Regions from separate parts of the Homo sapiens genome. Here region 2 is linked to region 1. A link means that fine-mapping ties the variant in region 1 to the expression of a gene that starts in the linked region. Tissue or cell type: whole blood. Region 1 holds a variant in brackets; the other region holds the start of a gene. All regions are shown on one strand. Distances are between the middles of the regions. Region 1 has its middle 4.8 kb from the start of H3C3. Region 2 holds the start of H4C4 (H4 clustered histone 4).

The links. PIP is the estimated chance that this variant, and not a neighbour inherited with it, causes the effect.
Region 2: H4C4 starts here. The variant in region 1 is the best candidate, but not a certain one, in a credible set for the expression of H4C4 in whole blood (INTERVAL, PIP 0.67).

What each region holds. Positions count from the first base shown.
Region 1 is chr6:26,047,500-26,052,886 of GRCh38, reverse strand. No RefSeq gene overlaps it. Among named protein-coding and RNA genes, the nearest start is that of H3C3, 4.8 kb to the right of the region's middle. The variant TGC/C (reference allele first, on the strand shown) is at 2,300.
Region 2 is chr6:26,185,956-26,191,342 of GRCh38, reverse strand. It overlaps H4C4 (H4 clustered histone 4), which reads left to right and starts at 2,231. Exons shown (of 1, transcript NM_003539.4): 1 at 2,231-2,633. The coding sequence starts at 2,267. The coding sequence ends at 2,578. RefSeq lists enhancers at 2,043-2,222, 3,005-3,630.

The DNA of each region.
Region 1 (5,387 bases):
TCAGGAGTTCAGGACCAGCCTGGCCATGAAAATACAGCCTGGCCATGAAAACACACAATAAATTAGCTGGGCGTGGTGTCACACACCTGTAATCCTAGCTACTCGGGAGGCTGAGACAGGAGAATCACTTGAACCCAGGAGGCAGAGGTTGCAGTGAGTTAAGATGACGCCACTGCACTCCATCTGGGCGACAGAGCCAGACTCTCTCTCAAAAAACTAAATAAATAAAAATAAAGTTATGGTACATTGAACTTCTGTGTTCCTTTCTCCCTTAGATACTTTCATGGCTACCCATTTAATTGATGTTCTTATCATCTCCAAGAGTTAGTCAGGAGAGGAATCAACCCAAGCAAAAATAGCTGATTTTCTAATTTTCCTTCAATGCCCTTTGGGGTCTTAATCCATTTGATTTATGTACTTTCAATTAATCCTAACCTCGAATGTCTTCTGCAAACATGTTTCCACAGATGAAACTCGTCAAATGAAACACATTCCTTTAATTTATAGAGTTAAAAATTAGAAAAATTTTCAATTCTATTTGGCCTTTAGATTCAGTCTTGCATATGTTTTCTCAATTTTGTTCATGCTCTTTAGTTTTGTTTTATTCCATCACAATTGTTCACATAGCTTACTGGCTTAGGTCTAATGAACCATTCATTTGGAAATTAAAATTGGCCATTTTAAGATGAAAAAGATTCTTGCCTCAATTTTACTTAGTTTTTGAAACTGTCAATGAGGACACATGTTTTTCTGTACTCTTAGATTCACTAAGTAGTGTCTTGCAAATTTAACTGACAAAGGACAGATTAACATGCGAAAAAAAGAGCATGCAATTTTATTAGTATATTACATGCACAGAGTTCCCAAAGAAAAAAAAATTGAAACCTTAAAAACGCGGTTAGACTCACAGACTTATACACCATTCCAACAAAGGAAAGGGAGTTTGCACTTCATGGGATGACGAATTTGGGAATGTGACAAGGAAATAAATACATGGGCAATAAAAACCATGGAAGATAAAATGAAAGATAGAAATAATTGTAGTAAGGTTTGTTTTTGCAGAGTCATCTCAGTGCCAACCTTCCATATCTAGTGATAAGAATTGCTCTCTTTTTCCTGGTATAGCAGTTGGGGACACTTTTACAAGGGAAATTTCTGTCACCTTCACAAAGGGAAATTTGGGTAAAGAGAAGACAGAGACCTCTTCCTACACCTGTTGATTTTCAATTGCCTTCAGCTGAAAATAACTTTTATGCCAAAGTAGAATAATTTGGGGGTGACATCCTGATATTCTTCAAAACTTATATTTAATTTCACATTAGTAATTATATCATTTTTGATTTTTAAATTAGTTTTATAAAATAATTTTGAAAAACGGTAATAATATTCAAATAATTCCAGAAACACTGCTGATAAGCCAAAAACATCAATGAATATTGCATAAACAACTGATAATTCAACCATGAAAATTTATGACATTGTTCTTGTGTGATAAAACTATGAGTAACATAAAAACTAGAGGCTACTTGTAATGCATTATTCCAAACTTTCTGTTTTTTATTTATTTATTTATTTATTTTGAGACATAGTCTCTCTCTGTCACCCAGGTTGGAGTGCAATGGCGTGATCTTGGTTCACTGCAGCCTCCACTTCCCCGGTTCAAGCAATTCTCCTGCCTCAGCCTCCTGAGTAACTGGGATTACAGGCACCTGACACCAAACCCGGCTAATTTTTTTGTATTTTTAGTAGAGACGGGGTTTCGCCATGTTTGCCAGGCTAGTCTCGAACTCCTGACCTCAGTGATCCACCTACCTCGGCCTCCCAAAGTGCTAGGATTACAGGCGTGAGCCACCATGCCCGGCGCATTATTCCAAACTTTCATACACAGTGCTATCATGGCTACAAATTGAAGTATCATATTATACACTCCTAGGCAAAGCTCTGGATATTTTGGCTATATAAGCCTGAGGGAAATGTAGTAAGGACATTGTGGTTGAAATTCATACCAGAGATGAACAGGCCCAGTGCAAGACAGAATTACATCACTAAAGGATATCAGAAGAGAATAGGGATTTAGGGTACAGTGGCAACAACAGTTTTGGGAACTAGCATTTTTTGAGCACTTATTTACAATATGCCAAGCACTGTTGCTGATTACTCTATATTTATTTTCAAACACATTCTTGTCACAGCACTTTGAAGTAAGTGCCATTGTCATTCCCACTTCAGGGTGAAGGACTAAAGCTTGGTGTCATTAAGGATGTAGCTAGTTAGCTGTGTGTGTGTGTGTGTGTGTGTG[TGC/C]ATTTTTTTTTAAATTTAAAGTCAATAAATTTTTATTTGAAGAATTTCACATCAAGGTAAACTTTGTTCCTCTAAAGAGCTGGAGTCAAAATGTATCTTCAAAAGATTCATCTTCAAGTTAGCCCTTCTTAATAGAACTGATGCTTAATCCACAGTTGTCAGCCCACAGTTCTTTTATTTTGACTTTTTTTTTTTTTTTTTTTTGAGACGGAGTCTCTCACTGTCACCCAGGCTGCTGGGCAGTGGCGTGATCTCGGCTCGCTGCAACCTCTGCCTCCCGGGTTCAAGTGATTCTCCTGCCTCAGCCTCCTTAGTAGCTGGGACCACAGGCGCATGCCATCGTGCTCGGCTAATTTTTGTATTTTTATTAGAGACAGGGTTTCACTATGTTGGCCAGGCTGATCTCAAACTCCTGACCTCATGATCCGCCTGCCTTGGCCTCTCAAAGTGCTGGGATTACAGGTGTGAGCCACTGCACCCGGCCTTATTTTGCCTTCTTTAATCTCCATTTGAACATACACATACTGATGAAAACTACAACATTCTTCACCAAAAATCTTTGGGATTTAATTTCTTCAACCACTTTACTTTGGGGTCATTTTAAGATTAGGTGTATCTGCCTGGTTCTCAATTTGACACCCTTTCTCTCTAAACATGAATGAGTTCCAATCATATTTATTCCTAAGCTATCACACTCAAATATACTACAGATCTGTGGAATATGCCAAAAGTTAAGGTGAAAAATTAAATTATTAGGTATTTCATAGTTTTGCTAGTTTTTGATCTGTGAGTGAATATAACTATCCTCTATGTCCTGGCACTGTTCCTCAGAAACATAGGGTCCACATATGTAATTTTAAATTTTTTAATAGGCACATTTTAAAAAGTGAAAAAAGAAATCTATTTTAATGATTTGAATCCAGTGTAACCAAAAATTGTTTCAACAAGGTATCTAATATTAAAATATTGAGTTTTTACTTTGTTATTTTACTAGTTCTTTGAAATCTGGTGTGTATTTTACACTTAAAGCACATCACAGTTTGGAGTAGCCACATTTCCAATGCTTAATACTCACATATGGTTAGTGGCAACTATCTTGGACAGGACAGCTTTTATACTCTGGGAAGACACAAGCAAATACTTGCTCTGCAGCAGAATCCAGATGTTTTCCAAGAAAACACTTTTTCTGACCTGTTCCTGAAACCCAGGTAGTGTCTCTAATACTTTATATTTTATTGGTTTGTCCTATTGTAACCACCCAACGGGCTCTCCTTGTCCACTTCCTAGACAGAGCTGATTTATCAAGACAGGGGAATTGCAATAAGGAGCCAGCGCTACAGGAGACTAGAGTTTTATTATTACTCAAATCAGTCTCCTTGAGAATTTGGGGACCAAAGTTTTTAAGGATAATTTGATTGTAGGGGACCAGTGAGTCGGGAGTGCTGCTTGGTTGGGTCAGAGATGAAATTATAGGGAGCCTAAGCTGTCCTCTTGTGCTAAATCAGTTCCTGGGAGTGGTGGGGTGGGGGACTCAAGACCAGATAATCCAGTTTATCTATATGGGTGGTGCCAGCTAATCCATTGTGTTCAGGGTCTGCAAAATAGCTCAAGCATTGATCTTAGGTTTTAAAATAGTGATTTTATCCCCAGGAGCAATTTGAGGTTTAGAATCTTGTAGCTTCCAGCTGCATGACTCCTAAACCATAATTTATAATCTTGTGGCTAATTTGTTAGTCCTGCAAAAGCAGTCTGGTCCCCAGGCAGGAAAGGGGTTTGTTTCTGAAAGGGCTGTTATTGTTTTTGTTTAAAAGCAAAAGTATAAACTAAGCTCCTCCCAAAGTTAGTTAATCCCAAACTCAGGAATGAAAAGGACAGCTTGGAGTTTAGACGTTAGATGGAGTCGGTTAGGTAAGATCTCTTTCACTGTAATAATTTTCTCAGTTATGATTTTTGCAAAGGCAGTTTCACTGTCCACTTCACCTCACATCAGGCCTCTGACTAGAGGATTCCAACAATACTTAGGCCAGGACACCACCATGTCTCCTTATCCACCCTGAGGGAGTCCAATTTCTGAAACAAAGGAAACTATATATGATAGTATGAAACTATATATGAGAAGGAAATTATATATGATAATCAATTTTAGGGTTATCTTATTGATTAGAAGATATTAAAGTGTGACACTGCCTGGCAATGATATCTGCTGGTAGTAAGAATTTGGCGAATTTAGTGAAATTCCTGAGGCTGAACCTCCACTTCTGTAAAATGGAGACAGTGAGATAATTTGCCTTACAATGCTGAAGTAAGAATTTTACACAATAATTCAGACCAACCACTTCATGTGGTACTTGGCCCGTGGAAGACTATCAATGACAGTTAGTTTATAGTTTATACTATTAATGAATCCTTTGTTTCATTGTTATTTCCTTCTACACGTTGGCCTCTCTAAAAGAAGGTAATATTCAATACAAATAAAGTTAAAACAGCTTGCAGAGTTGTCCCAGGGAACTCACTTAACCACTGAAGTGTTCAAATTGCTTAAGGTTGACTTTATATTCTCCTGACTAACCTTTCTCCTTCTGGTATTTCTTCTGAGAACAGCACCACCATCCAAAGCATCATGCAAACAGTGGTCATCCCAGACCAGTAATTCTCAACTCACAGGGTGCTCCTGCAGAGATGTATTTGAATAGAGTGGTAGGATGCTGAAGAAGGCCACGTAAAATTTGGCCAGTGATCTGGGGCAGATTTATCCTGAAGCTAATGAAACACAAGTGTAAGGGCCTGTACTTCCAAGGTGCAGAGAGGGGCCCTACAAATGTGTTAGTTTGTCTCTCTCTCTCTCTCTGATTTTAAAATTTGCAGTATTAAGGTACTTTAATCACGGATGGTTCAGGCTGCTATTTTCACTCAATCCTCCTTTTTATTAAAATCACCATTGTCTGATTATGTTAGAATCCTGATGAAAATATTTGGAATTTGAGTAAGAGAAAGTTTAGTTGAAGATGTATCTAGTATGGGGATAATAAGTTACGTGATTTGCATATGTGATCATGTGTACTTCATTCGTTGCCAGCCAATCTGAC
Region 2 (5,387 bases), 140 kb before region 1:
TTTTGCATTTTTAGTAGAGACATGGTTTTGCCATGTTGGCTAGACTGGTCTGGAACTCCTGGCCTCAAGTGATCCTCCCATCTGGGCCTTTCAAAGAGCTGGGAGTTACAGGCATAAGCCATGGCCTGGCATATGTCCTTTTTAAATTAATACATTAAATAATAATCTACCCATATGACTAAGACTTATTATAGTTTTGAAGGATTGAGGTTTTTTTTTGTTTTTTTGTTTTTTTTTTGAGATGGAGTCTTGCTGTTTTGCCCAGGCTGGAGTGCAGTGGCACGATCTCTGCTCACTGCAAGTTCCACCTCCCAGGTTCACGCCATTCTCCTGTCTCAACCTCCTGAGTAGCTGGGACTACAGGTGCCCGCCACCATGTCCGGCTAATTTTTTTGTATTTTTAGTAGAGATGGGGTTTCACTGTGTTAGCCAGGATTGTCTCCATCTCCTGACCTCGTGATCCTCCCGCCTTTGCCTCCCAAAGTGCTGGGATTACAGGCGTGAGCCACTGCACCCGGCTTTAGGATTGAGATTTTTAAATGAAATTTCGAGATATTGGCAATGAGAATGTGATATAAATAGAAGCACTTGTCCTGCCAATTACACTGTTTGTTGCCTGAGTTCATACACAGAAAAAATGCTGTTTCTGTTGGAGAATAGTAAAAAGAAAAAAAAAAGATTTGACTTTTTTTTTTTCTATACTCATTCCCAGATCCCCTGAAGACTTTCTATGTATCCCAGGCTAAGAACCTTACTCTGCAATCTTTTCCATGTACCATAAACTCAATAAACAGCAAACAGCTGTGATAAACTTGGTTCTTCTCACAAGTCATGAAGGAAAAGCCAAATATTCCACCCAAAGGACCTGGAACTTTTTATGGGGATTAATGATGAGTTAAGTTTTTAATTATTTATTATTTTGAGGAGTTCTCGAAATCAGATTTTAGCAAATTAGAATACTGTCTCTCATCCCTTTAGAAGGGTGAACCTTAAGGATAGGAATTGAAAACACCCACAATATTGTACTATACCATAATTAATGTTTAGTCATTGCTTATTTGGAATCTAGACACTATTCTAAGCATTTTGATAGGATTATCTGTTTCAACTTAACAAATACTTACAAGTTAGATTTTTAAAAATACATTTACAACAAGGAAACTTAGTATAGCTTGCCCAGGGTCACCCCCACAGCATGTATGTCAAGCAGGCTGTCTCTATGATAGTTTGGAGGGATACTATGATGCCAATTTGCTGGAGTAATAGAATATGGTGAATGATGCAGTGCTAGCTACAATCTGTCCATGATTAAAGGCACAATCAAAGCATAAATTTTCATAAATTTCAGCCCAACAAGGTTTTCTTTTACGGGTGTACATAGTCATGTTTTCAATCGGCCCTCGGTGATCTTATCCTAATTTGACCTCTAAATGTGTAACTTTCATATACTTTTAGTTCCCTCAGTAGCACTATCTAGCCTGCATGCCAAAGAGCCCTGCTTGGTTAACTAGGAATGCATAAATCAATAAAAATAATCTCAGAGACAATAAAGATATGAGTTACTTAAAATACTTTGAAAGCACCTTATGGCCCGGCGCGGTGGCTCACGCCTGTAATCCTAGCACTTTGGGAGGCCGAGGCAGGTGGATCACAAGGTCAGGAGTTCGAGACCATCCTGGCCTATGGTGAAACCCCGTCTCTACTAAAAAAATACCAAAATTAGCTGGGCATGGTGGCGGGCGCCTGTAACCCCAGCTACTCGGGAGGCTGAGGCAGGAGAATTGCTTGAATCCGGGAGGCAGAGGATGCAGTGAGCCTAGATCGTGCCACTGCATTCCAGCCTGGGCAACAGAGCAAGAACCCGTCTCAAAAAAAAAAAAAAAAAAAAAAAAAAAAAGCACCCTGTGAGGGAAACAGTACTAATTATTTGATATTCTGGGAAAAGTGGGGGACAATTGTCAGGCTTCTTTGTCGAAAGTTTATGAACTGATGGCTCAGTTAATGGCTGCAAGTATAGTGTGTGTGTATATATATATATATACCTAGCAGTATTTATTAAATCCCAGCTGAGGCTCTTTTGTTGCCTCAGGCCCCTCTTGGTCTCCTCCAGTCTGAGCAAGGGAGAATTGCACAGAAGGGCGGGAACTGACTGTGGTTCCCGCCCCTTCTCATGAGGTTTTCAAACAGGTCCGTCATGCTATTATAAAAGTGCTGCGTGGCTCTGCCAGACGTATTGCGTTACAGATTTAACAGCTGTGGTTTCAAGATGTCTGGCCGCGGTAAGGGCGGAAAGGGTCTAGGTAAGGGTGGCGCCAAGCGTCACCGTAAGGTATTGCGTGACAATATCCAAGGAATCACCAAGCCCGCTATCCGCCGCCTGGCTCGCCGCGGCGGCGTCAAGCGTATTTCTGGCCTCATTTATGAGGAAACTCGCGGAGTGCTGAAAGTTTTCCTGGAAAATGTAATCCGCGATGCTGTCACCTACACGGAACACGCCAAACGCAAGACAGTCACAGCCATGGACGTGGTGTACGCGCTCAAGCGCCAGGGACGCACTCTTTATGGCTTCGGCGGCTGAGCTTACCTCTACAGTACACTACCGCAAAACCAACGGCCCTTTTCAGGGCCACCTATCCACTCAGGAGAAAGAGTAGTAGTCACTGCTAAAAGTGTAGTTTCACGTGTTTAGTAGCTCCGGTTTTCAAGTTAAATGGTCTTATTACGCCTTGGCTTCATATCTTACTGGCCGGTGAGGATAGTGTATTAAAGTTTATTTTCACTCTTGCTGTGTCGCCCATGCTGGAGTAATCAATGGCGCGATCTCGGCAATCTGCAGTCTCCGCCTCCCGGGTTCAAACGATTCTTGTGCCTCAGCCTCTTGCGTAGCTGGGGCAACCGGCTTGCGCCACCAACACCCGGCTAATCTTTGTATTTTTTGCAGCGATGGGTTTTCGCCATGTTTCCCAGGCTGGTCTTGAACTCAAGCTCAAAAGAGATTTCCCTCCTCCGCCTCCGAAAGTGCTGGGATTACAGGCGTGAGCCACCACGCTTGGCCTGTGTTTTCTGTATTTCTGTAAGGAAACATGGCAAACTGCTGCTAACATTCTTCATGGCTATCAGAGAAACAAGGTAGCAAAGACTGTAGCTGCTGGAGAAACAAGGTAGCAAAACCTGTATCTCAGAAGGCAAGTGGTAAAGGCTGATGCTGCCGTGAAGAATAGTGAAAAAAATGGAGGTAGTTACTAGTTCCTACCAAGGCATTGTTATATGAAAGGAAGACAAAATGGCATTCAGATGGTTATTGGTGTGGGGGGATGGGAGGTGTGTTGGAGGCACTTGACTGGCAAATACATTCTTTAAAGAAGAAAGTAGTAATTACCGTGGGAGAAACAACCATGAAAGTACATAAGATTCAACATTTTTTAGTGGAATGGGGAGAGGCCAACTTGTTTGGTTCTGTTCCTCTGAGCTGCCTTCCATCCAGATCTACTGATTTTCTATTGTTGAATTTAAAAGGACTTTTTATTTATGTACCCGTGGCCAATTTAAAGGTATGTTGAACGAGTTCTTTTTTTGTTGTCCTTTTATCTTAAATAGTCTTAGACTTTATTATTAACAGAAGTCATTTTACCTTAAATCATAGATCAGGTTACTGTGGTTGCATGAATGGGTGTTTAAAACCGAGGTTGTCATGATTAAATTCCCACCTTCTTTCCCTTTACACCTCAGGAAATGAGACAAAAATAAGTAAGCCATTCCCTAGTGGGTTACTCCAGTCCTTACAATCGCAGGACTATCAGTATGCCACTGTATTATTCGCTGTCCTCAAAATGGATTTTAATTTGTGGAGAATATTGAGTAAACCCTTATTTTTCCAATAAAGTTTTTTCACTTTATCATAATAAAAAGAAAGCTGGACAGGTGGCTATCTAGCAAGAGACAACATTTCCTGGTCTTTCTGGGAGCAGATGTAAGCATGTGGCTACATTATTTCCAACACAGGTGAGACACATAGAAAAGTTACTACCAGGTCTGGGCTTTGAAACTTCCATGTTACCTTCTTCCCCAAGTATAATGGTATTGATTTCATTTTGAGCAATTAGAGAACATCAGGCCCTAGGAGATGACAGAACATTGACTTGGAAGGAACGAAATTTCCTGATTGATCACAAGGAGCAGAGCTGCTTCACAAAGCTGGACTAATCACAATGGATTTGTTCCATGAAACAAAAATATCTGTCTTTAAGCTTATTTATTGTTGAGTCTCTTTGTAAGCAGCATAACTTTATCACACAAAATTCAGTTTTGTTACTAAACTTATTTAGTATTGTGGAATGTCCTTCCATTGACCTGAAAGCTCTTTACAGAAAAGCTGATGCCAAATGAGCCTGTCGACTTGGTATCACCTCTGTTGGGTTCCATTATAGACAGAACAGAGTGGGGCTGATTACAAGTTAGAGATCAGGCAAGGCACGTGGCTCACGCCTGTAATCCCAGCTCTTTGGGAGGCCAAGGTGTGTGGATCACTTGAGGTCAGGAGTTTGAGACCCGCCTGGCCAACACGGAGAAACCTCGTCTCTAATAAAAATACAAAAATTAGCCGGGCATGCTGGCACATGCTTGTAGTCCTAGCAACTTTGGGGTCACAGAGTGAGACTCTATCTCAAAAAAAAAAAAAGTTATCAATGGGTAGACTAGATAGTCTATATGTCTTCAGCAGTGGTAACCTGTATATTTCAATGGGCTGACTTCCCTTCAAGAGTGGTTCTGCTGGGCACTGTGGCTCTCACCTGTAATCCTGGCACTTTGGGAGGGCAAGGCAGGGGGATCACCTGAGGTTGGGAGTTCGAGAACACCCTGACCAACATGGAGAAACCCTGTCTCTACTAAAAATAAAAAACTAGCTGGGCATAGTGGCACATCCCTGTAACCCCAGTTACTCAGGAGGCTGAGGCAGGAAAATCGCTTGAACCCAGGTGGCAGAGGTTGTGGTGAGCCAAGATCGTGCCATTGCACTCCAGCCTGGGCAACAAGAGCAAAACTCTGTATCAAAAAAAAAAAAAAAAAAAAAAAATAGAGTAGTTTGTAGTAATAGATGGATCAAAAACTCCTTTGAGAATCTGTTGAAAATAGACATATGAACATAGACATTTTATGAGGCTCATTATTCTCAGAAACTCAAGGAACTCCCAGGGCTCCATGGATTCCTGTCAACAACCAGAAGTCTAGGATTTCAGGGTCTGAGATCTAGAGATCCCAAATTTAAAGATAGAGAGGAATCGCAGACATAATACTAAATAATACATTGAACAGGAGTGAGTTACCATTTGCTGAGTGAAATAGACCTATATTCTTCTTCTTCTTCTTCTTTTTTTTTTTTTTTTTGA